Regions from separate parts of the Homo sapiens genome. Here all the other regions are linked to region 4. Evidence: fine-mapped expression QTL. A gene starts in region 4. Each other region holds a variant in brackets. All regions are shown on one strand. Distances are from middle to middle.

Region 1 (8,106 bases), 180 kb after region 4:
TGACTTGAAAAAGTTGATTAAGCAAGAGAAGGGGTCTCAGTCCTCCCCCAGGCTCCCCTGTGTCTCTCTGGGGTGCCCAGGCCCTGACCACCCCCAACCAAGGCAGGCTCTTCTCTTGCACTCTGTTACCTTGACGAGCTGTCATCTGACCTCCCTCCAAAAAAAATTCATGATAACCTTCTCCCAGAGCTGTTAATAATTATTATTATTATATTTTAATAATTAATATAAGATAATTAATATATAATTATTATATATTAACATAATAATATAATTAAATATTAATATATACTGATATAATAATTATTATTAAAAATCAGAGCAGTGTGAAAGCCCTTTGATGTGAGACAGACATACACCCCTAGCTCTGTTTCATGAGTACTTGTCAGTCTCTGTATATGTGGGTACCATTATCGCCACCACAGTCCCCAGTTTACAGAGGAGGAGCTGACGCCCAGAGAGGCTCCATAACATCCCCTAAAGCCACACAATCTTGGCCCAAGATTTGCTTGGCCCAGGGGCCTGGACGCTTGATCTCACATGGTCTGTCCATGTAGCTTGCAACACTCAGGAAGTCCCTCTCCAGTGAGGGAGCTCTGAACCCTGGCAGTGAGGCCTCTCCAGTGAGGGGGCTCCTGAGCTCTGGCAGTGATGAGCTCTCTGTGACCAGGGGACCCACCTGCAACCTCCCCCCATTCCACAGCTGCCAGCACCTGTGCCCACTTCAAAGCTTAACCCCGGATGATAAGACAGACCAGGAGCCACCAGCTTTATGTACGTTACTTATGAGTCTCAGAACAAACTCACAAAAAAATCTTATTCCCACTTCACAAACAAGAAGTTGAGGATGAGAGAGGTTAACTCAAAGGACAAAGTCACACAGATTTTAAGGCCCCTGCTCTTGACACCAGACTCAGCAGCTTTGATGTTTTTGTTCTCTTCCTCCCTGTTTTTATCTAGGGCTTCTGAGGTGTCCTCCTTCTCCATCTCCTCCCTTCTCCTCCTCCCCCCCCTCCCCCCTCCTCTTCCTCCTCCTCCTTTTTCTTCTTCCTCTTCTTCTTCCTCTTCCTCTTCTTCCTCTCCTTCTCCTTCTCCTCCTCCTCCTCCTCCTTCTCCTTCTCCTGCTCCTCCTCCTTCTCCTTTCTCTTCCTTTTTTTAAATTTAAGAGATGGGGTCCTGCTCTGTCACTCAAGCTGGAGTGCAATGGCATGATCACAGCTCACTGCAGCCTCAACCTCCCAGTCTCAAGCAATCCTCCCACCTCAGCCTCCAGAGTAGCTGCAAATACAGGCACACCTCACCACACCTAGCTAATTTTTAAATTTTTTTGTAGAGACAGGGTCTTTCTGTGTTGTCCAAGCTGGTCTTGAACTCCTGGGTTCAAGTGATCTGCTCCCCGTCAGCCTCCCAAAATGTTGGGATTACAGGAGTGAGCCACCATGTCCGGCAAAGTCACCCTTCTTGAACTTTGATTCACCAAGCTCTTCAGTCCAACTTTACACAAGTGTGAACTCAGAGAGGCGTGTGCTTGTGATTCCTTTATTCACACACAGCCAAGTTGGCACAAGGAGGTGAAACAGAGAAAGGCCTCAGTGTCTTTAGCCAAGCCCCCAGAAGGCCACCTAAGCAGGCTGGATGCTGCCCAGGGCTGGGCCACAGCGTGTCCTTTGCAAGTCAGCCAGCCCAGCCCCCGAACCCCATACACACACAAAGACATCTTGCACCCCAGGAGCAGCCCCACAGTGCAAAGGAGTCCATGCAGCTGCTAATGGCTGCTCGGGTTTGTCTGATCTGTCTGGGGTCAGGCACAGCCTCCAGGGGCCTCTGGCCCAGGTTGCATCTTTCCTGCAGAGCAGAAAAACGAAGCACAGTTAAGAAAACCCCAAGAAGGCAGTCAGTTTCCTCCCTTGAGTTTCCGGGGTGGACTTCCGGCAGAGTTTTTGGAGAACTGACTGTTGCAGTTAAACAATGTGTCTGGCAAGAAGCGAGACTTCCTCCCTTCCTGCTGCCTGGCTCATGGGGCTGCAGCCTCACTTCTGGAGGTGGCAAGAAAGAACTGTGGAGTCTGTGATCTAAGGGATCCCTGGCAGCCCACGGCAGCCAGAGAACCACACCCACTGGAGAACTCTAGGTTCTCTACGGCCTCTTGTTACTGCCAGTGCTTGTGTGGTTTGAGGTGGGTAATGCAGCAGCCTCCTGCAGCCAGCCCAGGACTGGGCAGCATGGGGCCAGGTAGTTAGTGTAGGAGAGCGAGCCTAGGCTTGTAAAGCAAGACTTGGCTCTGTCACTGGGCAACTTTTTTATTTTTTTATTTTTTTTTGAGACAGAGTCTTGCTCTATTGCCCAGGCTGAAGTGCAGTGGCATGCTCAACCCCTTCCTCCCTGGTTCAAGCAATTCTCCTGCCTCAGCCTCCTGAGTAGCTGGGACTATAGGCACGTGCCACCACGCCTGGCTAATTTTTATATTTTTGGTAGAGAGGGGGTTTTGTCATGTTGGCCAGGCTGTTCTCAAACTCCTCCCCTCAAGTAATCTGCCTGCCTTGGCCTCCCAAAGTGCTGGGATTACAGGCATGAGGCACCGCGCCCAGCCTGGGCAACTTTGAAGAAGTTACTTAGCTTCTCTGAGCCTCAGTTTCCTCATCTGTATAACGGAAGCAATAGTGTCCATTTTGCAGGGCTAGTATGACGAGTAAATGAGAATCCTCATGAGGGCCTGGAAATGACAGTGTCATTTCCAGGTGGTTCTACTATTATCAGTGACTGATATTTGTTGAGCACTGACCATAGACTAAGTTTTGTGCTGAGCATTTTATATTTATTGTCCCATTTAGTCCTCCTAAAAATCTAATGAGATATGACTATCCCCAGCTTACAAATAAGAAAACTGAGACTCAAAAAGGCCAGCAAGTGACCCCAGATAACTGCACAAGGATGTGCAGAGAGTGAGCAACAGGACCCGAAGCTGTGGGCTCACACCATGTTCTTCCTGCCTCTTAAGCCCATGGTACAGTTGGTGGGTGCTACCTGAATTGAATGGATGTGCCTGTTGTTTTGAAGTTGGGGTCTATGGCCATACCACCCTGAACGTGCCTGATCTCATCTGAAGTTGAGGATAGGCATCATCTTTCATTTGAAAATGAAGAAACTGAGGCATTGGGACGTTAACTCATGCACAGGCAGCAAGTGGCAGAGAGTGAAAGGAACCAGCATTGATGAGTGCCTATTGTATGCCAAACACTGTGCTTACTTCAAGATCCTATGATCTGCTGGGTGATTTTAGAGATGGAGTTTCATTGACTTCCCACACTGCCCTGAAGAGGTCTTATTAGTATTAGCCCCATTTTACAGAGAAGGGAACTGAAGCTCTATGCATGTAATTAGACTCTGAAGGCTGTTGATGGATGGGGAAG[A/G]AGAGGGTCCCTCTCTGCTTTTAAGGAATGCATGGACAGTTATGATTCTGGCCTGAGAAGGAAACTGAAGGGGCTCTGTGCCCGTCCCACATACCCTGCCCCACCCCCAGGGCCTCATGGGTCCCACCAGGGGAGGCTCCTGGCTTCCCAACAGAGGAAGGCATCACTTCAGAAAGGGCTGTCCCCTCAGGCCTTCTGTAGGTGGCCGGTGGGGGTCTAAGTGTATGTGCCCTTCAATCCCCCTTCTCCATTCCCCTCGTCCTCCCTGTGCTCCTGTAATGCCCGCTGGACCACTGGAGAGCCCCCATAGAGAGCAAACAACAGCAGAGCACACAGCCGGCCTCCCGAGGGTACAGGGCTTGCCTGAACTCTCAGGTCTAGTAAAAGCGAGCTTCCTACAGAAATGCACAGGGGACTGAGATCAGAGTTGAGCGGGCCTGGAAGGATCCCGGGGAACAAACAATGCTGCAGGGAAGATGGAGGCCACCCTCGGCAAGCCATCCTTTCTGGTCCCCGAGGAGCCCTGGGGTGGTCCCTGGTCACTATCTTGAACATGATACTCTAGTCTTTTTGCTCACTTCCAATATCAGTAAAATAAACTTGAGCATGTATTCCACAATGTGAAGGTTTATTGATTTATAAATTCTATAAATGTGCTGCTGAGCTCATAAATGCATCACAACACAGACATAGAAGTTGGTATTTTACTAGGATAAGAGGAAATCATAACTAGAATTTCTGATATCTTCTTCCTACACCCCCAGCATTTTGTGGTGTGCCCCCTTTGGGCCTTGGGAAAGTGATGCAGGGCCTGCAGAGCCTGGTATTGTGCTGGGGCCTGGCTGCAATGGGACACTGCCCTTCCCTGCAAGAGGCCAGCGAGCAAGGCGTTTGGCACAGGCTTTGGGGTCAGACAGAAGTGAGTTCTGATCTCAGCTCTGCCTCTGAGGAGCAGTGTGGCCTGGGCAATGACTTGCCTCCTGGAGCCTCCGTTTCCTCATCACGAAGTGGGGGAGATAATCTTCCTGTGCAGAGGTGATGAGATGATGAGCCCAAAGACACAGCGCGGTGCGTGCCACGGAGGAAGTGGTGTTCGCTCGATAGTCCTGAATCCTCCTGCTTACCAACGAGCTCCCGGTTCCCACCCATGCCAGAGAGGTCAGTAGGTGGCCTGGATGCCTGAAGGTCCGTCCTAAGGTTGAAGTCTAAATAGGGAGAACGGATGACTTGGGAGAAACGTCTCCACAGCTCCTCCTTGGCTCTGGGCACAGCCTTTCTCTTGAGTGGTAAGTCGTACTCCTATGGCTCCAGGTAGAATTCCACAAAAAGAAACATATACGTACACAATTTTTATTTCATCCCTCTTCTGGCATCCTCCCAGTTCTACTCACACATGCTTGTGAGTCCCTTTGGTGACTTAGAAAGCACAGTAGAGCCAGCATAATCATTCTGCAGCGGTAGAATCTATTTTTAACCTGGAATAGCCCCACGGACAGGAGACCTGTACTGTCCCCCATTAAGGGGACTCCCCATCCTATGCCATTTATCAGGACTCACACAGCCCTCATGAGGCCACCAAAAAGACAGGACACCTCCCAAGCCACAGCTGCAGCCCTGAGAGGGAAACGTACAAGCTCCCCACCTGGAGGCAGCCTCTTCCTGAGTGAGCGGCGGGGTGCTCCGCCATCAACTTGTCAGTCATTCATCCGGGGAAGGATGGAGGAAGCCGCTGTTGACCGCTTCGCCCACACCCCAGGGTGGCTCTGAGGCGCTCCTGTGGCCTGGGACAGAATGTTTCTGTGAACAGCAGCCCATGGCCAGGCAAACACAGAACATCTCCCCTGGAAGACCCGCATTCAAAGGGCCACCAGATTAAACTCCCACTTCACACTGAGGGGGAGCTGATAAGCAATGTGGGGGGGGGGGGCGGTGCAGAGAGATTGGGCCTACAGGTGGAGTGCTTCTCTGGGAGGGGCAGCCTGCTCCTCTGGGAACCAAGCCACTGTTCTCTCCAGCACCCTTACCCCAGAGGACTCTGTGTCTGAGCTTTCTGAGCAATTATCAGCTTCCACTGCAGCTGCAGCAGGCACGTTGTTGGAGAGCCCAGCTGGGTTCAAGGACTCTTCCCTGGTGCAAGCCTGGATTCCAAAGACCATGCGTGTGGGGGCTGGGATAGATGCCCTCTAATTAGCCATGCACCCTAGTTATTCCCTTCCACACCTCTTTCCTGCCCTCCCCTCCTTTTCCCCTCAGAAGTGAAGGTGCTCATAGCAGTCATCAATGTGCTTACAGAGCATTTAGCTCAAAGTTGCATAATCTTTAACCTTCCCCAGGCCCCAGCCTGTCGGTCTCCACACCAGCCACTGTGAGGACAGGATGAATTCATTTGCAGAAGACAAGCACAAAACCTCCGATAGAAAATAAATGCAATGTACCATAGTAAATGGGAGCAGCTTAAAAAAAAAAAAGCACAAAATCCATTGGGGACCCTGTTGCCATAGGAACTGGCATTACAGCTTGCTTCCGATAATTAATGGAGGGTTTTGCTATTACAGTATTCTTGAAACTTCGGTTTCCCCTGTGCTGCACTGCAGAATGCAGCATCCTCTCCCCATTCATAAATATTTCATGACTACCGGCTGCTGTGTTTCATCACCGTGGATAGCACTCGGCCTAATCCACCCCTTGCCAAATTCATGTTGTCCTGTCAGAGAGCAACTTCCATTTCTTCCTCTTTCTTCTGCAGTCTTCATTTATCTGGTTTGAAGTTCTTTACCTTCCCAACCCCAGAATGGTGGCTTTCATTGTGGCTTTGTCTTCAGACGCTGGACATCTCTTTCCTGTGCCTGTCTTATTTTCCTAACGGTCCCGTGGGCCTCCCCCAGGGGCATTGGTTGTGCTCCGGCCGTACTGCCTTCTGCACATCTGCTTTAATGGAGTCCTGGGAGGATACTGGGCTTTTGAATTCTGGTGTCTCAACATGCTGGCTGAGCCTCTGTTCCCTCATGGTTAAGTAGAGATGCCACCTGCCCTGCAGGGTTGGAGAGAGAGAGCCAGAAAAGATACAACACGTGTAAAGTACCAGTCCCCCCACGGGTGGGCTCAAATGGTCACAGTGGCTGCTGGTGTTGGTTTGTTCTCTTATATCTCTTGTTTTTGTCTAGATAAAATCCGTAACTTTTTTTAATTGACAAAATTGTATGCATTTGTGTGTACAGCAAGTTTTGATATTTTGACATGTAGAATGGCTGATCCAAGCTAATTAACCGTGCATTACCTCACATACATTTTTTGTGATGAGAATACTTAAAATCTACTCTTAGCAATTTTCTAGTATACAATATATTAATTGTAGTCACCATGTTGTACAATAGATGTCTTGAAATTCTTCCTCCTGTCTAAATGACAATTTTAATCTTTTCATCAACATCTCCCCAAGCCCCCCAACCCCCAACCCCTGGTAACCACCATCCTATTCTTTGTTTCTATGAGTTTGACTTTTTTTAGATTCCCCGTGTAACCGGGATCATGCCGTATTTGGCTTTCAGTGCCTGGCTTATTTCACTTACCTAATGTCCTCTAGGTCCACCCATGTTGCAAAGAACAGGATTTCCTTCTTTTTAGAGGCTGAATAGTATTGCATTGTGTATATACATCATATTTTCTTTTTCCATTCATCCATTGATGGATACTCCCTGTCTTGGCTTCTGTGAAGAATGCTTCAATGAACATGGGAGTGCAGATATCTCTTCAACATACTGATTTCATTTCCTTTGGACATATCCCCAGTAGTGGGATTGCTGGATCATACGGGAGTTCTATTTTTAATTTTTTGAAGAACCTCCACATTATTTTCCATAATGGCTGCACTAACTTACATCCCCGCCAAATGTGCAAGGGTTTGCTTTTCTCCACATCCTTAGCCATCCTAGCAGGTGTGAGGTGCTATCTTATTATGGTTTTAATTTTCATTTCCATGATGATTAATGATGAATATTTTCTCATACACCTATTGGCCATTTGTATGTCTTCTCTTGAGAAATGTCTGTTCAGGTCCTGTGTCCATTTTTTAATTGATTTACAGATGTTCCTTGACTTACGATGGGGCTATGTCCCAATAAACTCACTGTTGGTAGGTAACACTGTAAGTCAAAAGCATTTTTAGGCCAGGCATGGTGGCTCATGCCTGTAATCCCAGCACTTTGGGAGGCTGAGGCAGGCAGATCACTTGAGCTCAGGAGTTCAAGACCAGCCTAGGCAACATAGCGAAATCCCATCTCTACTAAAAATACAAAAATTAGCTGGGCATAGTGGAGCGTGTCTGTGGTCCCAGCTACTCAGGAGGCTGAGGTGGGAGGATTACTTGAGCCCGGGAGGTGGAGGTTGCAGTGAGCCAAGATGGAGCCACTGCACTCCAGCCGGGGTGACAGAGTGAGATCCTGTCTCTAAATAAATAAATATTAAAATTAAAAAGTGTATTTAATGCCCCTAATTTACCCAACATCATAGCTTAGCCTGGCCTACCTTAAGTGTGCTCAGAACTTTCATTAGTCTATAATTGGGCAAAATCATCTAACACAAAGCCTATTTTATAATAATGTGTTGAATAGCTCATGTAATTTATTGAATACTGTACTGAAAGTGAAAAACATAATGGTTGTATGGGTATAGAAGTATGGTTTCTACTGAATGCATG
Region 2 (8,106 bases), 460 kb before region 4:
ACTGAAGAGAGACTAACATGATTTTTGGTATAAAAACGGCATTCATGGTGATAAAACAGGCCCCATCTCCATTGAGGAAAATAAGAGGAGGTGAGGAAGATGAAGCCACAGCACAGAATATTAAGGTTAGATTTAAAGGAAGAACTGTGACTGTTCTTAGGTGTTACAGAATTAGCTCTTTAGGAGAAGGAAATAGGTTGAGTACTTGAATAAGTGCAGTATGTCCATATTGATGCTTGATATGAAGGTTACCTGCAGAGCTACTGCATAAATGACTGTGAAACTTCCTTCATGAGGGTCTTTAAAATGAGATAACTGCTCTGAGGTAAGAGACTGAGGGTAAGATTAACTACCTGCTTGCATTAGTTTCGAGTCCTTAAAAATTGAATATCCACACGTGTTTGTGGGCCCCTGTGGTTTTTTAAACTGTTGTGTTTCATGTCTTTGCTAATCATTTCTAGTTTTAATAGTAAGGATTTCCTCTGTCTTGAATGCCAGGAAACAAGTTATTTCCATCCTGGTATTCATTGGATATTTGTAAGATCTTTATTCTTTTGAGGGGTCAGGCAGAGGATGGGCACCCAAGCGTGAACCTGAGAACTTTGCACGTGGGTTTTTCTGGAGCTCCTCACTGTAACGTGGCATTGTCCCCAAGGCCAGCTCCTCTTCCATGTGATTTTGCTACTCACACATGCAGCAATTACCATGTGGCATTAGCTGACCTTGCCGGGCACAGTGTTATTATTGTCATTATTTTTTCTTTTTTGAGACAGAGTCTTGCTCTGTCGCCCAGGCTGGAGTGCAGTGGCGCGATCTCGGCTCACTGCAAGCTCTGCCTCCCGGGTTCACGCCATTCTTCTGCCTCAGCCTCCCGAGTAGCCGGGGCTACAGGTGCCGGCCACCACACCACACTAATTTTTTGTATTTTTAGTAGAGACGGGGTTTCACCGTGTTTGCCAGGATGGTCTCCATCTCCTGACCTCGTGATCTGCCCTCCTCGGCCTCCCAAAGTGCTGGGATTACAGGCGTGAGCCACCGCGCCCTGCCCGGGCGCAGTGTTATTTGGGGCTGTTGACCTGAAGTAGGTCTGACTGAGATGCTTTGAGTTACAAGCACTGGAAGCAAATTCTGACGTAAGCAGGAAAGATGGTTCCATTTACTCATTTATAAAACAGACTGGGGTCCATGCTTGATAGAGAGAGGGGGAGAAACTTGCAGGCCAGTGAGAAAACTGGGAAAGGGTGGTGCTCCCACAGTTAACAACAAGCACATGGGTGTCAAGTACGAGACTACAGACAAGTGATAGGCAGTGTGAGGCTGGGGATGAATCAGCTCAATAGAGGCAAAGGCAATCAAATGTCAACTACCACCCTGTGAGCCGCGTGGGCAAAGGAGTCCTGATATTAAGGAGGCTAGGAACAAGCTGCTTGGTGTTTTAAGGTGAGGCGGAGAAACGCAGGTGCCTGTGGGCAGGGCCTGGATGACGACATTGCTTGGGTGTCTGAAGTGGGTGATTCATCAGGGAGCCACAGCTGTTTACAGCTGACCCATGTGTTAAATATTCATCGCCCAGAGAAGGGAAATGTGTTCCAGTGCCCCCAAGCAAAGCTGAGGCTTTTCTGTTTGATTAGAAGATAAGTAAAAAAATAAGATGACACATTTTCTCTTTCTCCTAAGTTCCCAGGGACTTTCAGTAAGTTGAGGTTACTTGCAGGGTTTGAATAAGGAAAAAAAAAATCTGTTTATTTGACATCACCTTTTTCAAAGTGTGTGTGTAGGAGGATGTGGAGGTGGGAACAAGGCAGGAGTCATTCATTTCTGATACAAAAGAACTGGGCTAACTTCCCAGAGCGCTGTGGTCTGGCTTGACTCTCTGGTACTTACGTAGAAGCACCTATGGAGGTGATTGAGCCATCTGATGACTGGTCTCAATGGAAGGTCCACAGGGGATGTTATGTTTATTAGTAGATGACAGATGGAATACCATTATAAGTGACCATAAAATATAGTCAAGAGCGGATGGTTGCCGCTCTTGGGGTTGATCTGAGAAATATCGAGGAAAGCCTACATTCTATACCTGAAATATTTGTCACTGATGAACTTTTCCATTTAGACTAATTTTTCAGATGCTTTACAATAATTTTTCAGTGATAGGCTGGGCATGGTGGCTCATGCCTGTAATCACAGCACTTTGGGAGGCTGAGGCCAGAAGATTGTTTGAGCCTAGGAGTTCTAGACCAGTCTGGGCAACATAGTGAGACCTTGTCTCTACAAAAAATAAAAACAAATATACAGCCAGTCACGTTGGCACACGCCTGTAGTCCCAACTACTCAGGTGGACTAAGGGGAGGGTTGATTGAGGCAGGAAGGTTGAGGCTGCAGTGAGCTGTGATCGCACCACTGCACTCCAGAGCCTGGGTGACAGAGTGGGACCCTGTCTAAAATAATAATAGTAATGATAATTAGTCAGTGATGATATATAATATGTATGTATGACTTTGAAGTATATATATATTCCTTTGAGTTAGACATTGTTGTCTCCAAATGATCTAAGAAAGCTTAAGTTACTGGCTTGGAGTCATGTAGATGAGGAATTGCAGAGGTGTTGTTTTTAATGGAGACATTCCTAATTCTAAGTTCTCTTATATTTATCTTACACCCTAGCCAAGAAGAAATTTACAAGAGGCAAGGTAAGGATTCTAAATCAGCAGGTGTCGGAGAGCAAAGTTCCCAAGAAGTAGAGGTGGCAAGACCCAAAGACAGACTTAGCCTCTTTAGCTATTTTTGCCTCCCTCCAAGCTTTGCACAGTGGGCTGGGGACACACCTCTGTGGCCTGGAAGAGGAGGTTTTTGAGGGTTCATCCATTGTACAATTTTATTAAACATCTACTTTGTACCAATCCCTGTTCTCATCACTGAGGACAGATTGAGGAGTAAGACACAAAATTTCTTCCCTCGTAAAGCTTTGGTTTCGGGTAGGGAGGTAAGGGTCACCCAGCCTTATGGCTTAACTTCTTGTGGCTAACTTCGAGCATCAGTGCCTTCTTTACTAAATTGTCAAGACTGAACAGTAAAGTCGTTACAAGGATGGGTTGGAATCCCCACTTTTCCACTCAATTTTCTTTGTGATAAAAGGTGACATAAAAATAACTAATTTGTCAGGAGAATTAAATAGGATAATGTAGGTAATGTGTTCATCACAGTGCCTGACATGCAGCGAGTGCATACCTATTGCTGTCATCATAATCACTTTAATATAGGATGCCAAAACCAGTAGCAGCAGGTTTCCCCCAGCAAATGGAGTTGAATTCAGTTGCCAAATTGTCCAAAACAAAGACCAACAGAGAATACCCTTCCTGGTATGGGATTACTTCAGGCTGCATGGGAGACAGACAGGGCTCTATCACATTCTCACCTCATTAGATGTGGCAGAGGAAGCAAAGTGCTCCAGAGTGACCCTGGAGCTGAGTCCTTGCAATTTTCTGGAAGCTCTTGTTAGAACGCATATGACATGCCCACCAGCATACCGGCTCTTGGAGGTTATGAAGCTGTGAAGTATCTCCTAATTATTTCTTTCAAATAAATGTGACCTATTTCCTTTTTTCCAAGAATACATTAACTATAGTCATCATGTTATACAATAGATCTCTTGAACTCATTCCTCCTGGGTAACTGAAATTTTGTATCCTTCAACCAACATCTCCCCAATCCTAAATATGCCCTATTTCTACTGTGGCAAAGTAAGGAAAATTGTCCGGTGAATGCCTGGAAGATCAATGGCCAGGCAGTGGGTTCACCAGGGTCAAGAGCCCCCTGTTCTCCAGTGGCAGGTCTTGTGCCCAAACTCAGCTTCCCGAGGACTGTGCCCCTTCCCTGCCCATGCAGCAGCTGAATCCAGCATCTTACAAGGTCTCCGGGTACAAATGTGAATGTTCTCTGACAGCTTTGCCTACAGCTGAAACATATAGGCAGATGGCAGGTGCTAACATTTCATCTAATCATTCCTCACAACCAAGGCTGTTTTTGACTCTCAATCTAAGAAGACAGGAAGGCAATGCCCCTTCCCCAGAGCACAGACGTGCAGTGTGTCTGCTCAAATACAGCTCTTCCTGCGATGATGACAGGATGGGTACTATGGTACTATGTGTCTCTTCTTGCCGATCTTGGCATCTAATTCCTCCTTTCACAAAGCCTGTTCTTTCACCTTTATCATACATCCTGGTGGGTATCTGCTTTTGCTCATTACTCTATTACTTCTCACTAGAGAGAATGTGTTCAAATGAGAGTCAAAGTGGCTACTAAAAAACATCTATGTGAACGTGGAATAAGAATCTATTTAAATAAATTCCCCAACATTCTTC[A/G]TTCAGCAGCTCCTGATAACACACGGTTGAAAATAGTTTTCAGATAAATATAGGAAAGTAGTAAATTCAAGTAAAGAATGTAAAACTACTCCAGTCCTACTTTCCAGCTTAAATAAAAGCAGCGTTACCACTTAAGACATACTGTGTTTGCCTGTGCCCATGGTCCCATTGTAAGGAAAGATTCCCTGATTCATATGCTCACTTTTTGCATTGGAGTTATTTTTCCACTCTGAATTGTTGCCAATATTATTTTTCACATGTATATTTTCATTCCTCTCAAATTACTTCATAAGTGTATGTTTGATTTCCTTAGTGTATAAGCATCCCAAGGTCAAGATCTACATCTTATTTATTTTGTATCCCTCCAGAGTAGACATTAAGTAACTGAGTTTTTAAACTGTATTATTATGGTTAGAATAAAGATATCTTCTTTGAAAATGTCCAAACCCAAAGTCCAAAGTATTGGGAAAAAATAAATAAAGCCAAGAATTATGTTTCTTTTTACCCATTCATTCCTAAAGCTAATTTGTTAGAAGTACAAATACAGACATTAATTATTTTGTGGATTTTGGTATCTTTAGAGAGGCAACAAAGTCCATATTTTGTATTGTCTCTTTGTCTGATTTTATGAATCAGTTCTTTGAATTTTGATGGAGGCTGCTAATGCCTCCTCTGTAGCTATTATGATGAGGGCTTCCAATTATACTGTGTTAGTTCGTTCTCACATGGCTAGAAGGAAATACCCAAGACTGGGTAATTTACAAAGGAAAGAGGTGTAATTCACTCACAGTTCTGTATGGCTGGGAAGGCCTCAGGAAACTTAACGATCATGGCAGAAGGTGAAGGGGAGGCAGGCACCTTCTTCACAAGGCGGCAGGAGAGAGAATGACTGCAGGAGGAACTAGCAACACTTATAAAACCATCAGATCTCATGAGAACTCACTCACTATCATGAGAACAGCATGGGGGAAACCGCCCCTTGATTCAATTACCTCCACCTGGTCTGTCCCTTGACAGGTGGGGATTGCAATTTAAGATGAGATTTTGGGTGGGGACACAGCCAAATCATATCCTATACTTTCTCATCCTACTGCGTTTTTAATTAGGGACAGATTTAAATTAGAGATAGGTATTAGTGAGAACAGGAAGTAGTTATTCATCTCTTCTCAAGTTTGTGTGAGCACAAGTGGGGGAAACATCCCTGATCTTTGGCTAGTGTCCACTAGCCTTTCAAAGTATGTTTGAAACTCTCTTAGATTTTATTTTGGCTGAGAGGACAGGCTTACCAAATGTTTTCACATGGTAATACCTCCAAATAAAACAGAAAGCCACCACTAAATAAACACATAGCTTCAGAAACAGGACTATACCACGAAGCACTGAGCCAGCATGGATTTTTAAATGCACGTTATGGCTATACGGACACAATGAACCTATTAAAACTTAAGGTGTTTAAATGAGATTTTGGAATCAAATAATACTCTGTCAATAATCCAAGGATTTTTATCCCCCTTAAAGAAGTCTGATTTAATGGGAAAAAATTTCTAAACTTATGTTTCTTTTAAAGTGAATGCAGGTTTATTAAGAAAATAAAGGAATTAAAGAATGTCTGCTCCATAGGCACAGCAGCAGCTTGGGCTGCTAGACTAAGAATACTTATGGTTATTTCTTGATTATATGCTAAACAAGGGATGGATTATTCATGAATTTTCCGGGAAAGGGGTGGGCAATTCCCAGAACTGAGGGTCCCTCCCCTTTTTAGACCATATAGGGTAACTTCCTGATGTTGCCATGGCATTTGTAAACTCTCATGGCACTGGTGGGAGTGTCTTTTAGCATGCCAATGCATTATAATTAGCATATAACGAGCAGTGGGGATAACCAGAGGTCACTTTTGTTGCCATCTTGATTTTGGTGGGTTTTGGCTGGCTTCTTTACTGCAACCTGCCAAATTAATTTTGATTGCCTTTCTTGCCTCAAGTAGTTTTTGGTATCTGCACTGTCTTTATGCAGAAACATGGGCATTTCAAGGTGAGCGACGGCTGAGAGAGCAGGAGAGCAAGAAGGAGTAGGAGAAAGATTGCAAAGAAAGGAAGGAGGAAAGGGAAAGAGGAAAGACAGCAATTGGAAAAAGCGGTTTGAAGAATACACGAATACAGAGGAGGATGGGAGAGAAAGACTAGTCTGGGCAAATTTCTCTAAAACTACAGGAACTGGGCAATTACATCGAAAATATCTGAGACGAGTAGCCCAGGAACTCTTTGTTAGAAAGATGAGCGCAGATTGCCTGTGCTTTTCTGAGCAGAGGTCATACTCCCTTCTAAGCAGCCCCTATGTGGATTTTCTAGGCAATGGCCTCCCCTATAGCAGATGCTGGCGCTGCTCCACAGGTATCCCTTTGGTTCTTCTGCCATATTCTTGTACAACTTTCACTCCTGACAGCCAGCGTGGCTGAGTCGCCTTGTCTGAGGACCGCCACTGTTCTCAGCCTGTAATAACACCTTCAACTTGGCTTCCTCTGCACACTCTGAAAGCTGGAAGTGTCTAGGAACATACATCCCCATCCCATTCCCCATGGTAGTCCTTGATGGTGGGTGACTGATGGATACAATGTTATCATTATTCCAGCTCTCTTGTTCCTTCATCTCTGAGGTGTGGTTGCTGTGTCTCTACAGCATCCTCTGCAGGACTGAGCTCCCTTCCCTTCCTTTCTCCACTTCCCTCTACTGGTTTCCTAAATCCACTTCCTAATAAAGCTTATGAAACCCCATCTCAGGGATCTCGGATCTTAATCTAAGACATAAGTCAATTAACCTAAATGCCCAGATTATTCCAACGGCCATTGAGATGTTTCCTTGATCCTCAGGAGTGACCCAGCAGTGTGGAGGATTTACTCCACGTGCAGGTCTACACTTGTAATTACAGACTACATTCCTGAAAGATAGTCTCCCTCTGCCCACACTTTTCCCTTCTAGCACTCGGCTTCTTTGCCATATGTGTCCTGGGTCATATGGGCACCTGTCTTGAGCCACATCCTTGGAGACCTCTGCCCTCACAGTCTCCTTGCCCCTCCCAGGCTCTGCATGGTTGCTGGAGCTCAGCTCCATCCGCAAGTCTGACGGGCATTTTTCTCCAGAGCTGGGTGTGCTTGGGAATTGGCTGGATTTTAACACCCATCCCTTTAACCACTGTCTGCTGGCATCGCCTCTGCTGGGATGGGTTGGAGCCCACAGGAGCAAAAGGCAGACATCTTCACTCACAGCCTTGTGGTTTGAATACACATTTATCACCCAAACCAAGACAGGTGTTAGAACTGGAGTCGGGGGGAGCGGGTCGGTACTAAAATAGCACCTGGGTTTTTATAATTTTGAGGGAGGCAGCTGAGGTGGTGTTTTCTGTCCCTGTGATTCTATAACAGGAACTCTCTGAAGTTCCTGTGGCTCACCATCTTCAGTGAATCAGTTCTCAGGAATCTAGTTTAGAGGGGGCCATTTTTAAATCCTAAAATACTATTAAAAATGTGTCTGGATCTACTCATTTCTTAATCCCAAAATACTATTAAAAATGTGTCTGGATCTACTCATTTATTCTCCCACTTACATAAAAAGAGGGTGGATAATCACTCCCCTTTTCAAAGTTAGAAAATGAAAGTGGTGATGACAATTTGTCCTTAATAAGGTTGTTCTGTATGAATCCAAGCTGGGAAAAGCTCTCTGCTGGTGGGTCCGTGGAACAGACAGATGCA
Region 3 (8,106 bases), 21 kb after region 4:
GGAGAAACACAGGAAGACACCAAACCAGACAAACCTCAGGCAGCCACTGCCTTTCACATCGAGAGACACTCCTTAAAATAGTCCAAGTCCCTAGTAAAGAGGAGAAGGGAGAAAAGGACATGTTTGTCCATCCTTGATTTGTTAATCAAGTCACAAATTGCTTTGTTTACATTAAGACACCACCATGGGAGTCTCTTCTTGATTAAGAAAGAAGCAACACCAAACAAGCAAGCTTGTGGGGATGCCAGGCTGGATAATTAACTTCAGCGCGCCTTCCTGACCCGGTTGCCACAGACTGCAGTGCCTGGGCCTGCCTCAATCTTTCCATTTCCTGGGAGGGTCAGCTGAGCTTCAGCAAGTGACTATAAAAAATGGCTTTCATAGTCCTCAAAGTCCTCTGCTTGTCTCCTCAGGGTGTCACCTGAAACAAGTTGGATTGCGCTCTCACTGAGGCAGGGAGAGAAATCCCAAGCAAAGTGGGTCATTTAACTCTGGCCAAACACAAATTCTTCAAAACAGGCAACTTTGAAGGGGATAAGGAACATCAAAGCACATGGGAGGCACATCCATCAATCCCTGTCCAGAGACATGATGGTCCAGCCATGTGGCAGCCAGGTCTCCCAGAGGCTTGTATACTCTCAGCCGGCCTGGCAGTCATGTTGGTATCACGCACACCTTCCACCTGTTGCACTGCACCCTTTGTGCAGCGTGTTTTCCTGTGTAACCATTCTTCTCCCATCCTCTTGTAATATTTTCTGCTCTTTGGAACATAACATGGGGAAAACTGCATTTCCTCACTTGCTTTGTTTATTGGGGTTGTGGTATATTGTTTCCTATTTCTGAATAGCCCTTGGACACTTTTGTAGATGGCAGAGAAAAATGCCTCCAATTCTGCCCAAATCTTTATCTTCAGGAGTCACTATAAATTCAAATCCAAAATGTGCTCATGTGTACACATTTATACAGATGTTCATATATTCTCTAATTTAGATATTTTCTGGGACACAGATACATACACACACACACATACACACTGCATTTGCAAACCTGACCTTATTCCTTCTGATTGGCTCTTGGACCTCATCTTTTATCTTTTCCATTGGTTTTGACATTTTGTGTTTCATTCTCCACATGCTCCTTCCCCTGAGCTTACAAACACACTCAAATCTCTTATAGCCTAAAAAAAAAAAAAAGGCCTTCCCTGTCCATCCTTTTACTGCACGCAGCTGTTTCTCCATTTCTCAGCCATTTCACAAATACATGATTGTAAGTTCCTAGAACAGTGCCCAGCCCAAGGCAAACACTCAGCAGATATTGGGAGACTATATGAATGAAATCCTCTCCTTCCCCTTTTTGCCAGCTTCCTCCTGGCTGGCCTCCAGCCTGTGGCCTCCAGAGCCAGGTTCCTCCTTACCAATGGCAGACACTCCACTCTCATTGGCCTCCTCCTTTTCCCCCATGTGTATCTTACCCTTTAAACACTATTTTATGTATTCTATTTTTAAATTTTCACCACATGTCCACATTCACTATGGGAAAATTAGAAACTGCAGGTGACTCAAAGGGGAAAAATGTAAAATAGTCATAATTTCTTCAACCAGAGACACACATTTTGGTCTCAGTGTCTCTGGTATTAATTCTCCCATTTCCACATGGGTGTGAAAATGTCGTTTCCCTCCTTTAAGAACCTTCATTTCCTTCCCATTGCTGAATCATTGCTGAGTGACTCTGACTCCCTGCGTGACACCGAAGATTCACCAGGATCTGGTCCCATCTCATCTTGCCAGCCTTCTCCCCAACCACAGCCCTCTATGTTTCCCACGCACGTGCTACAGCCGTACTGACTTCCTTCTTGCTCCTTCAACCTATGCAACCCCTCCTCTATTCGATGCCTTTGCTTATTTAGTTCTTCCAGGCTAAAATGTATTGCACTTCCACCCCAGCGCCTCCCATCCACCCTTGCATGTCCTATTCCTTCAAGATCCTTCTCAGGCTCAACCTTGCATGAACACTTCCCTGATCCCCTGGTCAGAATTATTGGGATGGCCCTCAATAACCTCTTGTTGTTCTTAATTTTGTATCCCAATTAGAGAACTGCTGATCCGTTTTGTCTTTAAACCATACGTTCCTTGAGGTCAGGGACTATGTCTCACCCATCTTTGAACCTCCCACAGTATCTGGCACTGTGCCTGGCACAGATGATTATTGAGTAAAGAACATTTCCAGTCCTTACCACCTCACACATATGTAGTTGCATGTTCTAACTTTAAAATAAATAAAGGTGTTGCTAATGCCAACACTTCTCTGGGCTACTTCTTGCTAATGCCTTTTCTCCCTCAGAAACTCCTCCTAGGCAGCATGCGTGTGTATTCCTGGTGAGTAGAGGCATAAAATTGTTGGCTGCATGTCATGGAGTACCTACCAATGGTTAGAAACAAAGGAACAGACACATCCATGGCAATGCAGATAAGAGAGAATGAAAAAATGGTGGCTAAAACAAAAGGGAAAGAGAAAAGAAGCAACTGAATACATCCTGTTTATGCCTTTCAGAACAACTAGCTCAACATTTCATTAGCTTGTTATATTTTTTCACGGGCTACAGGGAAACCTGAAGGACTCATGGTCCTTCTTTCATTCCTTCTTTCTCATTCAAGGAACTCTTGAAATCTATAACTTTCCTGGCCCCTTGTTTGAAGAGGAGAGTTTTCCATGTCTCATCTTCACTCAGACTACGCGCTTATCATCTAATGCATACACAGTGACTATGCACATGGGATCCGGCCTCCAAAAGGGCCTCCAGTGAACTTGACTCCTGGTATATGTGCCTGTGTGTAGTCACTTTGCACAGTGAATCAGGGCTGGCTTTGTGTAACCAATAGAATATGAATAAATTAATGAAATTTGACTCCCAAGGATAAGTCATAAAAGGTATTGCAGTTTCCTCCTTAGTCCCTTGGATTACTTTATTTGGGGGACGCCAGCTGCCATGCCATGAGGCACTTAAGCAGCCTTGTGGAGAAGCCCACATAGAAAGGAACTGAGACCTCCTGCCAACAGCCAGCACTGACTTGCCAGCCTCAAGAGTGAGCCATTTTGAAAAGTAGATCCTCCAACCCCAGTCAAAACTTTAGACGGCTGCAGCCCCAGCTGATATCTAACTGTAATTTCATGGAGACTCCGAGCCAAGACCATCCAACCAAGCTGTTCTGAAATTATTTACCCACGGAAACCATGAGAAATAATAAATGATTGCTGTCTAAGCCACTGTCTAAGGATAATCTGTTATGTAGCAACAGATAACTAATAAAGTGTATCTGGCATATTCTTTCATTTTAATCTGTAATGTTTGTTCACTTGTCCCTGTGTGTTCGTGTGAGTTTTGATAGGTTTTGTTTGTAAGTTTTTTGTTGTTGTTGTCGTTTTTCGAGACAGAGTCTTGCTCTGTCACCCAGGCTGCAGTGCAGTGGCATGATCTCAGCTCACTGCAACCTCCATCTCCTGGGTTTAAGCGATTCTCCCATCTCAGCTTCCCAAGTAGCTGGGGCTATAGATGTGCGCCACCACACTGAGATCATTTTTAATTGTTTTTGTAGAGACAGGGGTCTGCCTATGTTGCACAGGCTGGTCTCGAACTCCTGGTCTCAAGTGATCCTCCTGCCTCGGCCTCCCAAAGGGCTGGGATTACAGGTGTGAGCCACACCATACCCAGCCTTTAAGATTTTTTAAAACAAGGATTTTAGAGATTTAAGTCATTTTGTATAGCAAATAGCAAAATTCTTTGAGCATCTAAAGTCTTTAAACAATGATTCCTGTCAACCAGGAAGCGGTTTCAGAAAACAGCAGTAAGTATACAAACAGGAGAAGAGTCATAAAGAGAAGTCATGTTACTCAAAGATGAGCAGGGAAACACTGCAGTGATTAGGTCTGAAAGAGTAAATGGGAAAATGGCAACCACAACCGGGCCATTATGACACTATGCTGCCCTTTGCATAGCTGGAGACACCCCCAGAAGCTGAAGGGAAAAACCTTGTTTCAACTTTCCTCCCACCTTCCAATCTTCTGCCAGAGCCTCCCATTGGCAAAAGCTAACAAGAAGCAGTAGGCAAAGGAGTCTGGAAAGTGTAGTTTTCAGGCTTCCTGCCCTGGCAATGGAGAAAAGATATATTAATAGATAGGGCAACCATGGAGCTGAGCCAAAAACACACTCCTTATCACCGGGAACAATAACAGACATAAAGGGGAAAAAAATGTATGTGTTTGAAGGGGCTCTACTCAAAAATGAAGTAGCCAACCTGAGAGATTAGAGAAAGAGGAATTCAGATGCTCCCACATTCATCTTCCGAGATGTATCCCAGGAGCCGGCCAAAAGACTGGGAACCCACTATAGGTATAGACCTCTAAATTCTTCAAATGAGCTGCCACAATAAAGCCCTTTTCAGTAATTGCAGTAGAGCACCCCTATTAAGAAGAGCTAACACATTGGACACATGATGGGTCAGGTGCTGTTCTAACTGCTTTTCACTTAACTAATTTAGCTCATCAACATCTTCATGATGTTGGCCCTATTGTGATCCATTTTACAGGCGAGCAAGCTCAGTCCTAGAGAAGTTAAGTCACAGAGATGGTGTCAGAGTCAGGTCCCAATATGATAGCCTGGCTTCAGAGGCCGTGTGTTTACCATTCC[A/G]TTATCCTGCCTCTCACTTGCTGAACCTATGCCCAAAGTTTATTAGAAGAGATGAACAACACAAAAAGGAACTAGAGAACAGGCACTGTAGAAACCCAACTCCTGAGCTACAGGGCCAACCTTAGACTCAGCTTGTCCAAATGTTGACTGACAGACAACCCATTAATTCCTTTAGAAAAACCATGGTTTATTGAATATCTGGTGCTCTTTTTCTGAAATTCTGGAAGACCCTTCTAACTCTGGAAATATCCTCTGCAAACCAAGTGTGGAGGAGGGTTAGCAACCAGTACTCAAGAAGGACTTATGCATGTGAGAGCCATGTGCTTGGGCAGTAATGAGAGTCCATGCAGAACACTAAAATTAGGGTGCAGTTTCCTGCTACCCTATACTCAGGCTGAACACATGGAGCTGATCATTTCAACAAGCTTGCCTAGCTTTTCCTTTTGATGGAGAAACACAGTGGGAAAAGATTGGTTCTTCAGAAATTTCATTCCAGTGTCTTTGACAACTTCATTTTTTTCGTTTTTGGGGGATTTATCTTGTTTTTTAAACAGCAGGTGATTTGCACCATTTTGAAATAATCAGTGCCTTTCTCATCATAGCTTGAGAGAGACTAGGTTAAAGAACTAGAGAGAGGAGCCCAGAGGGTATGGAATGCATCATGCAGTAGCACCAGACTCTTCTATCAATTACCACGTTTTCTGAAGGTGGTGTTTCATTCTTGGAAGTTTCCAAGTTGGGCCTGCCTGTTAGGTTTTAAAAGGAGCAGAAGGATAATAGTGGTGCAAACGGCTTTACAAATATTTTTGATGGCAGATCTGCAATATCTAGGTCTCACTGAGTCAAATACCAGAAGCACTGATGCTTCTTGCCCACCCTTTCCAGTGGAGGGAGGAAGGGCCCTGCTCCACTTCGACCAGAGCAGTCAGCAGCCTCTTCAGGACGTTGCTGGGTGCTGGGTTGCATTGTACAAGGCTACCCAAAGTGGGTCCAATTCCTGTCCTCTTGGAGGGGCATCTGAAGCAGAGAACATTGACATGGGAACATAAAGAATGACATAGCTGTAATTATGTAAGCTTAATATAAGACACTGGTTTTCATGTAGTTTATGAAAATAATGTTCATTGTTTTATAGTCATCCCAACTACAGACTTGCATAATAAACCAATCAGCATTCCCTTTGCTATATTTTCCCTTGTTCATAGCCACAGGAGAAAAATTGGGATCCCCTAAGTAAAAATAAAAAAGACCTATTATTTTGATGACCATGGTCTCTGCGTGGTTGTGGATGAAGGGGTGAAGAAAAAGAAATTATTACACAATAGCCTTTCTCAAAATGAATGGCTTGTTTTAAACAATGTGTTTTTCTTGGCAAGTTCAGAGCTACTACAAAACAACCATCACTGCTGAAACCTTGCAGAACCAGCAGGAGCGAGTTATCTTCTCTTGCTCAAGGGACACGCCAACTGTGAACTCTTCCCTCCTCACCTCCTGGCAGGGAGATGGGTAATTCCAAAGCTCATATATACCCCAAAGTAGCCTTTTTAGGTTTTGTCCCTCTCCCTTTGGGTCTTTTATAACACAGCTGTCTACATGAAGAGAAGAAAGTCAGCACCAAGCTGATGGACTCTAAGTGATCACAGATACAAAGAGACAGTGGTTTCTGAGTAGGTGCAATGTTATGAAACAGGGTGAAAACTATCAAGCACAGGTGGGTGTCTGCTACTGAGAGGGACTGCAAAGAGCCGAGACAGCCCATCAGGGTAAGGATCATTTGCTCTTTCTATAATGTGTCTCTCCCTACTTGATCCAAGGCCTGCCTTTTTCTCTTACCCCACTGTTTACCTGCTGTTTCTCTGCCTTGCATGCCCCACGCTCATTTAGCCTTCATGCCTTTGAACTCATTATTTCCTCTGCCTCTCCCCAGAGTCTTTGTGTGGAAGGCTCCTTCCTGTCATTTTGTTTCAACCTCAATGCCACCTCTTCGGAGATACCTTCTCTGACCTTTCATTGTAAAGTGATAGCCACCTTCTCCCGGAAATCCTCCCAGCAAACAGGCACTATCACATTGCCTGATTTTGTTTCATTTACAGCATTTGACACTTGCACAACTAAAAAAAAATTGCTTTATAACATTGCTTCATACTCTAAGTTTCGATTCCCTGGGCAAAGCTGGGCCCTAGGCCTTGGGCAGACAGTCTTCTGTGCAGTTTTCTGTCTCCTAAAGGTCTTGAGTGGTCACCTCCAGCCTCTCCCCTGCTCCCCTCTGCCTTTGCATCACTACAGTTCCACATCCAGATTTTATCTTCACCACTCAGCTCACATCTTGGTCTCTTTCTTTTGAAGGTGGAGTCTTGCTCTGTGGCCCAGGCTGGAGTGCAGTGGCTCGATCTCAGCTCACCACAACCTCCGCCTCCTGGGTTCAAGCGATTCTCCTGCCTCAGCCTCCCAAGCAGCTGGGATTACAGGCATGTGCCACTATGCCCAGCTAATTTTGTATTTTTAGTAGAGAGGGGGTTTCTCCATGTTGATCAGGCTGGTCTCAAACTCCCAGCTTCAGGTGATCCACCCCCCTCAACTTTCCAAAATGCTGGAATTGCTGGTGTGAGCCACCGTGCTCAGCCAACATCTTGGTCTCTTTTGCTCTTAACAGTAAGCAGGCCTCGATATAGGACCAAGAAGCAAGTGCTGGGCACCTCCAGAGGATCCCATGTGGCTGCCCTCAATCATCCAGAAGAGCAGAAAGTAAGCTGATACAAACCACGTTCTTCATGGCCTGCGATGGGGCACATGAACCCATGACTGCATGAGTAAATGTCGCCGCAGGGCTCTGTGTGGAGTGTGACTGGGGGGGTGTGGATCCTTAGCAAAATGAATCAAGAGGCAAACTTTGCCTGTGATGGCAACACCACTCAGGTCCCCCACTTCTCCTGTCTTTGGGGTTGACTTGCTCCAGTTGGAAAGCAGCTTCCCTGAAGCTGCTTTTCCTGCCCTTTCTCCCCCAGGAAGCTGACGGGAGGAGGAAAATGAAGTATCTGATGCAGGGCTAAGGTTAGACAGAAAACATAAGAACAAGGAGGAAAAGAAGCCCTCTGAGACTCTTGGGTGAGGACATTGAGGGACAGAATATATATTTCTAGGGTCCCTAGTTGGCATTCGGAACATTTTTCCCCATACACCAGTGTTTCTTAACCAGAGGTAATTGTGTTCCACAGGAGACATTTCGTAATGCCTGGAGACAGTTTTGCTTGTTACATCTGAGAAGGGGGTGCCACTGGCATCCCTGAGTAGAGGCCAGGCATGTTGCCGCGCATCCTACAATGCACAGGACAGCCCTTGCCACAAATAATTGTCTGTCCCAAAATGTCAGTAGTGCCAAGGTTGAGAAACTATATCATAGAACAATGATGTATTTGGTAATT
Region 4 (8,088 bases):
CAGGTATGATGTCTTGTCACTCTAAAAACTTTAGTATATGTTGCTCCAAACAAGGACAATTTTTTCTATAATCAGCATACAATTCCCCAATCAGGAAATCAACATTGGTGCAAAACTAATGCCTAATTCACAGACTTCACTGAAATTTTACTGGCTGTTCCAACAACATCTCTGTCTTTTCTTGTCTAGAATCTTATCCAGGAATACAGGTTGCATTTAGTTGTCATGCCTCTTCCAGTTGTTTCAGTGTGAGTGGGGACCACATAGGCATTCCCTTTGTCATAAGTCAATGAATTGTGCATGCTTGTTTTGTGCATTGTTCCGTGTGTATATTTCATGATAAAAACGTTGATTTGTTTTAAATAAAGTGTTTATTTTTAAGATGGAAGTTAATCACACTTCTACATTTCAAATTTAGCATTTGCTCCTAGATTTCAAATTACTGCATTCAAATCAAGTTCAATTTTTAAATTTTTTTTTTTTTTTTTTTTTTTGAGACAGAGTATTGCTGTGTTCCTCAGGCTGGAGTGCAATGGCATGACCTCAGCTCACTGCAACCTCTGCCTCCAGGGTTCAAGTGATTCTCCCGTCTCAGCCTCCCAAGTAGCTGGGATTACAGGCGCCTACCACCATGCCCGGCTAATTTTTGTATTTTTTGTAGAGATGTTGACCAGTCTGGTCTTGAACTCCTTACCTCAGGTGATCCTCCTGCCTCGGCCTCCCAAAGTGCTGGGATTACAGGTGTGAGCCACCGCGCCCGGCCAGCAAGGCCTTGAAGTTTCAACTAATTTTGTAAAGAGTCTCAAGATCAGAGAGTGAAAAAAATCACCTTACCAAGCCACAGATGCAAGGGTAGACCCAGGCCTCCCGAAGTAGATTTTTACTGGGGCCTCTACCAATGTATATACCTCCACAAAAATCTCCTTCCTCTCGTAATCTATATGATTGTTTAAATACAGTATAGTTATCATTTTAATGAAAAGTTATGTAATATAAATTCACATTTTTATTAAAGGTTTTAGCTGAAGATATTTAAATGACTGACTAAATTTATGAGAGAGATGTATTGCTAGACCAATCTATTCTAATAGAGCAGCGATTTTTTCTGACCTAGAATACAAAGATGGGATTTCCTAGTGGCCTTGACAACTGCTCTTGCAAATAATTTCAAAGGGTTGTTTGTCGAGGTGGCAGCTTCTGGAAAGCCGACCTATGATGGATTCATAGCAGGAGCTGGGGAATCAACTGGCATACTGCTCATCCAGACTAGGGCTGTAGCGCCATGAAACGAGAAAGGAAGTTGGTGCCCACCAGGCTTAAAATTAGACATAGTCTCTTTCTGGCCGTTCTAGGGATAAGGAATTTTGCATATTTATTACCTTAATTATGCAGACTTACTTTTGGGAGTTACTTTGGCTCAATTCAACATGCAGACCCAAACAGCACCTGTGACTTTTTCCCTCTCCTGAACTGTATTTGTTTCTTTAAACAAAATTGCTTATCAAAAAGAAATACGTTCTTTGCAAGAAGTTGGCTTATAAAAAGCACTCTTGCACGGATTTTATTCTTCGGATTGTGCGTTTCCACTCCTAATCCCATTCACAGAATTCTAGAAAATCCTCAGTTCACAAAATTTCAAAGGTGAAAACAGCTTTGGAAATTACTTCATAGTCCACTCTCCTTCATTTTCCAAAGTGTGGGGGTCAGCCTGTGAGCTGGGTTTCCCTGCCCCTGTTCACTGCTCTTCCCACTGCATCTTCAACCCCAAGTATGATGTGAGATGAGCTTTTCACATTAATAAAAGAGGGAACGTTCTCCAAAGCCACCTCCAACCATGGATGCTACCGTTCCCAGACAGCATGCATTGACAACCATGAAATGCAATATCCTTTAATTAAAGAACTACGAAGAATCAACCCTGCATGGAGCCTGGACTGCAGAACGACCTGTAATTTAAAAGATGAGAATTTTTCAAAAAATAAAATGTCATGTGCATCTATCTACCCAGAAAATCATTTATGTAGAGTACCAACTCTGTTTGCCTCTCTCTTCTTCACTTTTAAAAAGACTCAGGCCTATGAGGGAGGTTGGGACGCCTGGGGAGGAAAATGAAGAGAGGAAAAAGTCAGCGGGGGTTCCCTCCCGGGGTAGGGCGGTGAGGCGCAGCCACGTCCCAAGGGCAAGAACCGGATCGGCCCGGGGCGCGGCGCGGGCGGCTGTGCGCACGCGCGTGGGTTCACCCGCTTCATTGAGGCCCTCAGCCCTGCCTACTCCACATCCCCAGCGCCCCACGCTCAGAGTTACAGGGGAGGGGTTGGAGAGGATCCCAGAAAATGATGCTGTGAAGATCCCAGGTGGATAAGCAGGAGGAAGGCAAGGACGTTGAGGGCAAAAAACCTTAAGCCACTCCCAAGCCTGGGCTCTGCACGAGTCTGAGCGAGGTTGGGGGCCCGCAGCTGGTGGCCTGGTCCGGGAAAGCTGGGCCGGCCCCACGCGGAACCCCGAGCGAGGGGCGGAGCCGTGGGCCGGGCCGCGTGGCAACCCCCCTGAGGCCCCGCCCCTCGGAAAGCCTCCCGCCCTGCCATTGGAAGACGTCGGGGGAGGGTCCGAGAAACGCCCCCCTCTCGCCACCAGCCCCCGCCCCACCCCTTGTCCGCCCACGTTTTCGGTTCTTCCCGGAGCCTCCGAGCTCGGGGAAAGGAAACACCCGGGGCCGCCACCGTGCCCCTGGACACCGGAAGGCGAGCCCCCAACCGCCCCGCCCGCAGGCCGGTGACATAACCAGGGGCGGGGAGACATGACTCCGCCCCCAGGGCCAGGAAGGCTGCATGGGAGTCTGAGGCTCCCGCGGGACGTGAGTTAGGGGCCGCACATTGCAGACACCTCACGTCACCAAGTGCTGCAGTAGGACCCCCGCAGCTTCCCCTCGGCCCCCTACCCTCCACAGCCTGTCCTACCCCCGTTATTTTGCACCTTTCTCCCCCTTTGTCTATGCATCTCCAAATATCTGAGTATGGGGACGGCAAGATTGGCCCTAGAGGGCAAGCTGCCTGTAGAAGCAAATTCAACGCTTCTCCTTAATCCGTGTGCATTTCTACAGTTTGACAGCTTGACGTCCTCTAGTGTAGTTTGGCAAAATTTGGGGGGTCGTTTTCATTTTTTTCTCTCCACAGGCTTAAGGATTAAAGCTGGCCAATGCCTTCTTTAGCATTTTATTAAAGACGCTACAATTTAGACTTTTTTTTTTTCTGTTTGGTGCAGAAGAAAGGAAGAAAACCAGAGCTTAAAGGCGTTTAGAAAGGAAATAGCCCTGTTAGTTTTTCGGTTTTGACTCAAGCTGTCGTCGATAGCAGCTTGCACCTAGCACAAAGCCAGCTGCAGAAGTATTTTGTTGCAGGGTAGGCTACACCTACACAGGGTCTGTGCCTGAGCATCAAAAGACAGTGCAGGTGTGTGTGGGTCCGGGTGTGCGTGTGCGTACGTGATGTACGTGTGTGCGTGTGGGTACGTGTGTGTGTAGCCCAACAAATAAGCCCAAGAGGCGCATCAAGATTAGAAAGAAGTCCGCACACCAGCGCTTGCCTTGGAAATTTCCTAAAGCGCTGAGAGTTGGTTGGTAAATCACTAGTATCCGAAAACTGTCTTATCAGAGGCTCCTTCCCCGGTGCCCTACTCGCCCCCTAAAACAGGTGTCGCTGTGTCCCTTGAAGCGGCCTTTGGCCCGCTGGGGCATCGCAGGTGGGTAAAATTCAGAGGACATTCGGTGTTTATTTCTGGGGCCCCACGTGTGCAAACCAAACCCCCGGGGCCTGGGCGTGTGCGCGCGCTCGCGTGCCTTGTGTGCGGGCGGGCATGGGGGCGCTCGGCGCGGCTGGCGGGCGTGCGCGCGCGCGTTTGTGTGTGTGTGTGTGTGTGTGTGTGTGTGTGCTCGTGCGGGGGGCCGGGCTGCGTGCTCACGCGCTCCAGGCTGCGCCCAGAGCTCAGCTGCTGGGTTGGAGAAAAAGAGGGTAGGCAAGCGCAGGGGGCGGGCGGCCGAGGAGCGCTTTCGAATTAATCGAGCTAGCTTAGCTGTTTTTCCCTCTCCCGCTCCTTTAAACCCCCCTGCATCGTAGAGAGCGGGCTGGATTCTCTGTGGTGCTGATGGAGGAGGGGGAGCAGGTTGAAACAATCGAGTGGGCGCGCCAGGACTCCCCAGCTCCTGGCGGGGAAGGGAGGGGGAGCCCCTGTTCTGCGCAGGGAGGCGGCGGGGCTGGGGGGCCCCCGGAACGAGGAAGAGGCAGGGGTGACCGCTAGAATAGGAAAGTGCTCACCCCCGGGAGGCAAAATTTCGTTCAGATCGCACATTAATTGGAGATATCTGATTAATTCCAGCTTCTGATGACTATAAATGGCGATTCTCTACCAAGGTGTCTATATTAAAAAAAAAATCATTCCGTGTCATCCCCCACGTCAGGCCTGCTCGTGGGCGTGAGGCTGTACTTCCTCCGCCCCCTTCTAATGGAGTGAACCATTCCCAGCTCTCCCCCCCCCCTCAGCCTCTCTCTCTCTCTCTCTTTCTCTCTCTCTCTCTCTTTCTGTCTCTTCCTCGCTCCCTCTCTTTCTCTCCTCCCTCTGCCTTCCCAGTGCATAAAGTCTCTGTCGCTCCCGGAACTTGTTGGCAATGCCTATTTTTTGGCTTTCCCCCGCGTTCTCTAAACTAACTATTTAAAGGTCTGCGGTCGCAAATGGTTTGACTAAACGTAGGATGGGACTTAAGTTGAACGGCAGATATATTTCACTGATCCTCGCGGTGCAAATAGGTAAGTGGCCGCTCAGCCCGGCTGGAGGCTGGAGGCGGGAGGCAGCCTGCCCCGGCCCGAGGCGCGGAGGGGGACTAGCGGGTCCGCGGCCGCCCCAGGGTGCGGAGAAGCCGGCAATCCCCCGAGGGTGGGGGCATCAGTTCCTGGGGACTAGCGCGTCCCAGATCGGTTTTTCCTAAAGCTATAGATTCCAAATGTTCGCCAGGAAATGTGTGCGGCCGGACATTTTCTGGACACGGTTTTTTTCCCCCTTTTTCCTGAGCACACATCCATTTTTGTTTCCCTTTCTGGGTTTATACCAGGTTTGGTGCGCTCTGGGGCAATGTACTGGCCCCTGCGATACTGCAAGATATGATTTTGAAGAGTCGAAATGTGAATGCAGGAATAAAATGGCTAGGCAGCCAGGACTGGAAAGTTTATGTGCTGAAAGCAAAGATATTCCAGGGCTCAGACTGCTGCATTTAGAACTTTGTCATTCTCCCGCCCCTCCTCCCCCCTATATCCTAGCTGCAGCGTTTGCACGGGCACCGCAGACCCGGCTGGTGGGCAAATCGAGAGTGATAGGGAACTTCAGACCACATATTTTAACATGCTTACCATTGAAGAGGATGAATTCAGCCAAATTTACGTAGATATACTTTTCTAGATGCATTTGCCTGCTACTTTACACATTGGTGTCTGCATTTTATATATAGGAAAGGGTTAAGAAGTGTTTGGAATATGTCATGTCGGGTGTTTGTTATTTTTGTTTGTTTGGGATTGGTTATGGAAGGAATTATTTAGTCCCCATTTTATGTTAAGGAATGTTGAGTTGTAGTTACGCTGTCAGGGGTCTTTTTAAAGTTCACATTTTTACCATCCAGAATGAAGAAAAGATATAGAAGAGGGCACTAGAAAACCCCCTTCTCCGACACTGGGTCAGAACATTAATTAACGTGGCCTAAAAGTGAAAGTGAAGCAGGTTATTAATAGAATGGACAACACGGGGGAAAAAAGAAACTCCTGAAACGGAATTGTTACCTCCTATCAGTTCAGGCTGTGGCATTCTTTGCAGACAAATCCTTGCAGTATTGGGGGAGGGGGTGCTTTAGGTAATTGGTTTGGGGCAAGAAAGGAGAATGCATAATATGTTTTTTCCATAAGAAATGTGAAGGAAACAAGGTTTGGAGTTCTCTAGACCTTAAAATGGATTCTTTGCAGTGGGGTTTTATGCAACTGACATGATTTTGAGATTTTATAATGCAGAAACATTATAAAGATTTTAGAGTGTGTGAGTGCAGGATATTGGTGTTTTCCTTTAGTTCCAAAAAATGACAATGCTTTAAATCTGGTTGTTTTGAATCTTTGACATTAGTGAAAAGAGCTGCTGTAAATAATATTTCTAATGGCAGCAAATTCCTTAAATGTTGGAAATAAGTGAATGTGGCATTTTGCAATAAACCTTTGAATTTTTAGAGAGCAGGAGAGAGAGTTGTTTTTGAGATAGAAATTTTAATCGGACAAGATTTGGGACTCTGTTTTCCCGGTAGGAAATAACCTTACTTTGAGAGGTTTGGAGGGAAAAAAAAGACGGTGGTCGTGCCTGAGGGACGCGTTTTGAACACATTAACCTCGGTCCAAAAATGACTATTTGTTGACTGTGGAATTGAAATTGAACGTATTTGTTCCCTAATGTCTGCCCTTTCCTGCAACAGAACCTCGGTCTTTATTAATTCACGGCTGGGAGCTGTCCCAAATCATTGACATTTGGCAAGAAAAGTGGGGGTTGGGAGGGGCGGGGAGGTAGAAGAGTGTGGTGAACACGAAAGAAGACGCAGCAGGAGGAAGTTCGGAATGAATGAGAGGTCGAACGAATGAATGAACGGATGGAAACCGCACAAGAAGGGGACGGCAGAGAGGACAGGGAAGGAGCCAGGGTCACCCGCTAGAGTCTCGCCTAAGCGGGGTTCAGGAAGGACAGCGAGGGACCCACGGGCTGCGACCTGCTGGGACGCGTGCGCCTGCAAAATCCGTCCCGCGCGCAGCCTCCCGGCCTCCCAGAGAAGGCTAGAGTCCAAGGAGTCACAGTTTTAAAAGACAGAAATGTTCACGACTTATTTTACACAGCACACACTCACACATGCGCGGTGTGCAGGGTCTTCTCCAGCAGCGCCTGGGAAGATAACGTGACAAGAGCGCTCCCGCCCCCGGCGAGCCCCAATTCCCCTTAAAAAATGTCAATGCATTTTAGGGGCTTCTTTCGCCACTGAGTTTTGGGGGTGTAGGCAAGGGGTGGGGAGAGACGTGGACGGGGAGATTGGACTTTATTTTATTTCGTTTCTTCTCTGCAAAGCTGTATTTGTGACATGCGTTATAGAGGAAGATGTGTGGAGTGTATTTCCATTTTGAACGAGCTCTATCAGAACAAAGATTCGTTTATTCTTAAGATTTTACGTCAGTGTTCGATTTGTTAGTATTGTAGTCGCAAGGGTATTTAATGTTCGCTGTAAGGTGAACTCGGAGGTTTGAGAAGGTTTACGTATCTGCCCCAGCGGAGGTCGAAGTTAACCTCGGTCCCTTCCCCAGTGCTTCCCGTTCCGGATTAAAAAGCGCAAGGCCCGCCTCGCTCTTCCTGCAGCAATTTGCAAACGGGTACGCTCTCGGAAGCTGCTACGGGTTCGGTCACCTTCCTCTTCGGCGTCTGGCCCGGCGCTCGCGGACAGGCGCCCGCGTTGGGGGCCGGGGGATTGAGGTGTCCGGTCCTCCCGGGACACATTCACACACAAGCGCAGCCGCCAGAAAGCTGCCGAGGACCAGGCCGGCGCCCAGGGTCGTGGGCGCCAGTGCGGATTTCGATTCTGAGATTCACCCTTTCTTCCCCGCCCTAACGCTGTGCTTCTCTGGCGCCCTCCCGGCGCCCGGGCTGCTTTGGGCCGCTAGGCACTCAGCTTCCAGCCGGGTTCGTCGGCCTCAGGGCGGAAAGAGATGGCCACAGCCGCGCGCCCGCAGCCTGGTACCTGTCCTTCCAGTCCCGCGCCTCGGGGTTTGGCCGTCCAGAGGCCGGGGGCTTGGGGGCTTGGGGCTTGGACCTTCGTGCGGCCTGTGTTTCCTCCTCCTCCTCCTCCTCCCGCCGCTCAGCTTTTATCCCTGCCTGCTCTCTGCAGGGAGTCCTGAGCTGGGGCCAGGAGCCCCGGGCCGCGGCGAGCTCACTTTCAGCAGCAGGGCTGGCACCTGGAGAAGAACAGCCTCTCCCCGCTGCCGTCCGGAGTGTAGGCGGGCTTTTTGGCGGGCGGGTGGGTTGTTAAGGGTG

Evidence for each region. PIP is the estimated chance that this variant, and not a neighbour inherited with it, causes the effect.
Region 1: its variant is fine-mapped to the expression of NRN1 in whole blood (INTERVAL, PIP 0.90).
Region 2: its variant is fine-mapped to the expression of NRN1 in tibial artery (GTEx, PIP above 0.99).
Region 3: its variant is fine-mapped to the expression of NRN1 in whole blood (INTERVAL, PIP above 0.99).

Annotation. Positions count from the first base shown.
Region 1 is chr6:5,825,479-5,833,584 of GRCh38, reverse strand. It overlaps LOC124901250 (a long non-coding RNA gene), which reads right to left and starts at 7,042. Exons shown (of 2, transcript XR_007059424.1): 1 at 6,980-7,042; 2 at 4,022-6,441. The variant A/G (reference allele first, on the strand shown) is at 3,411.
Region 2 is chr6:6,460,920-6,469,025 of GRCh38, reverse strand. The region is part of intron 3 of LY86-AS1 (LY86 antisense RNA 1); the gene reads left to right. Among named protein-coding and RNA genes, the nearest start is that of LY86, 120 kb to the left of the region's middle. The variant A/G (reference allele first, on the strand shown) is at 4,362.
Region 3 is chr6:5,982,867-5,990,972 of GRCh38, reverse strand. It overlaps LOC105374898 (a long non-coding RNA gene), which reads right to left and starts at 87. Exons shown (of 2, transcript XR_926413.4): 1 at 1-87. The variant A/G (reference allele first, on the strand shown) is at 4,685.
Region 4 is chr6:6,003,406-6,011,493 of GRCh38, reverse strand. NRN1 (neuritin 1) reads left to right here and starts at 4,569. Exons shown (of 3, transcript NM_016588.3): 1 at 4,569-4,799. The coding sequence starts at 4,745. RefSeq lists a silencer at 2,519-2,638 and an enhancer at 7,105-7,929.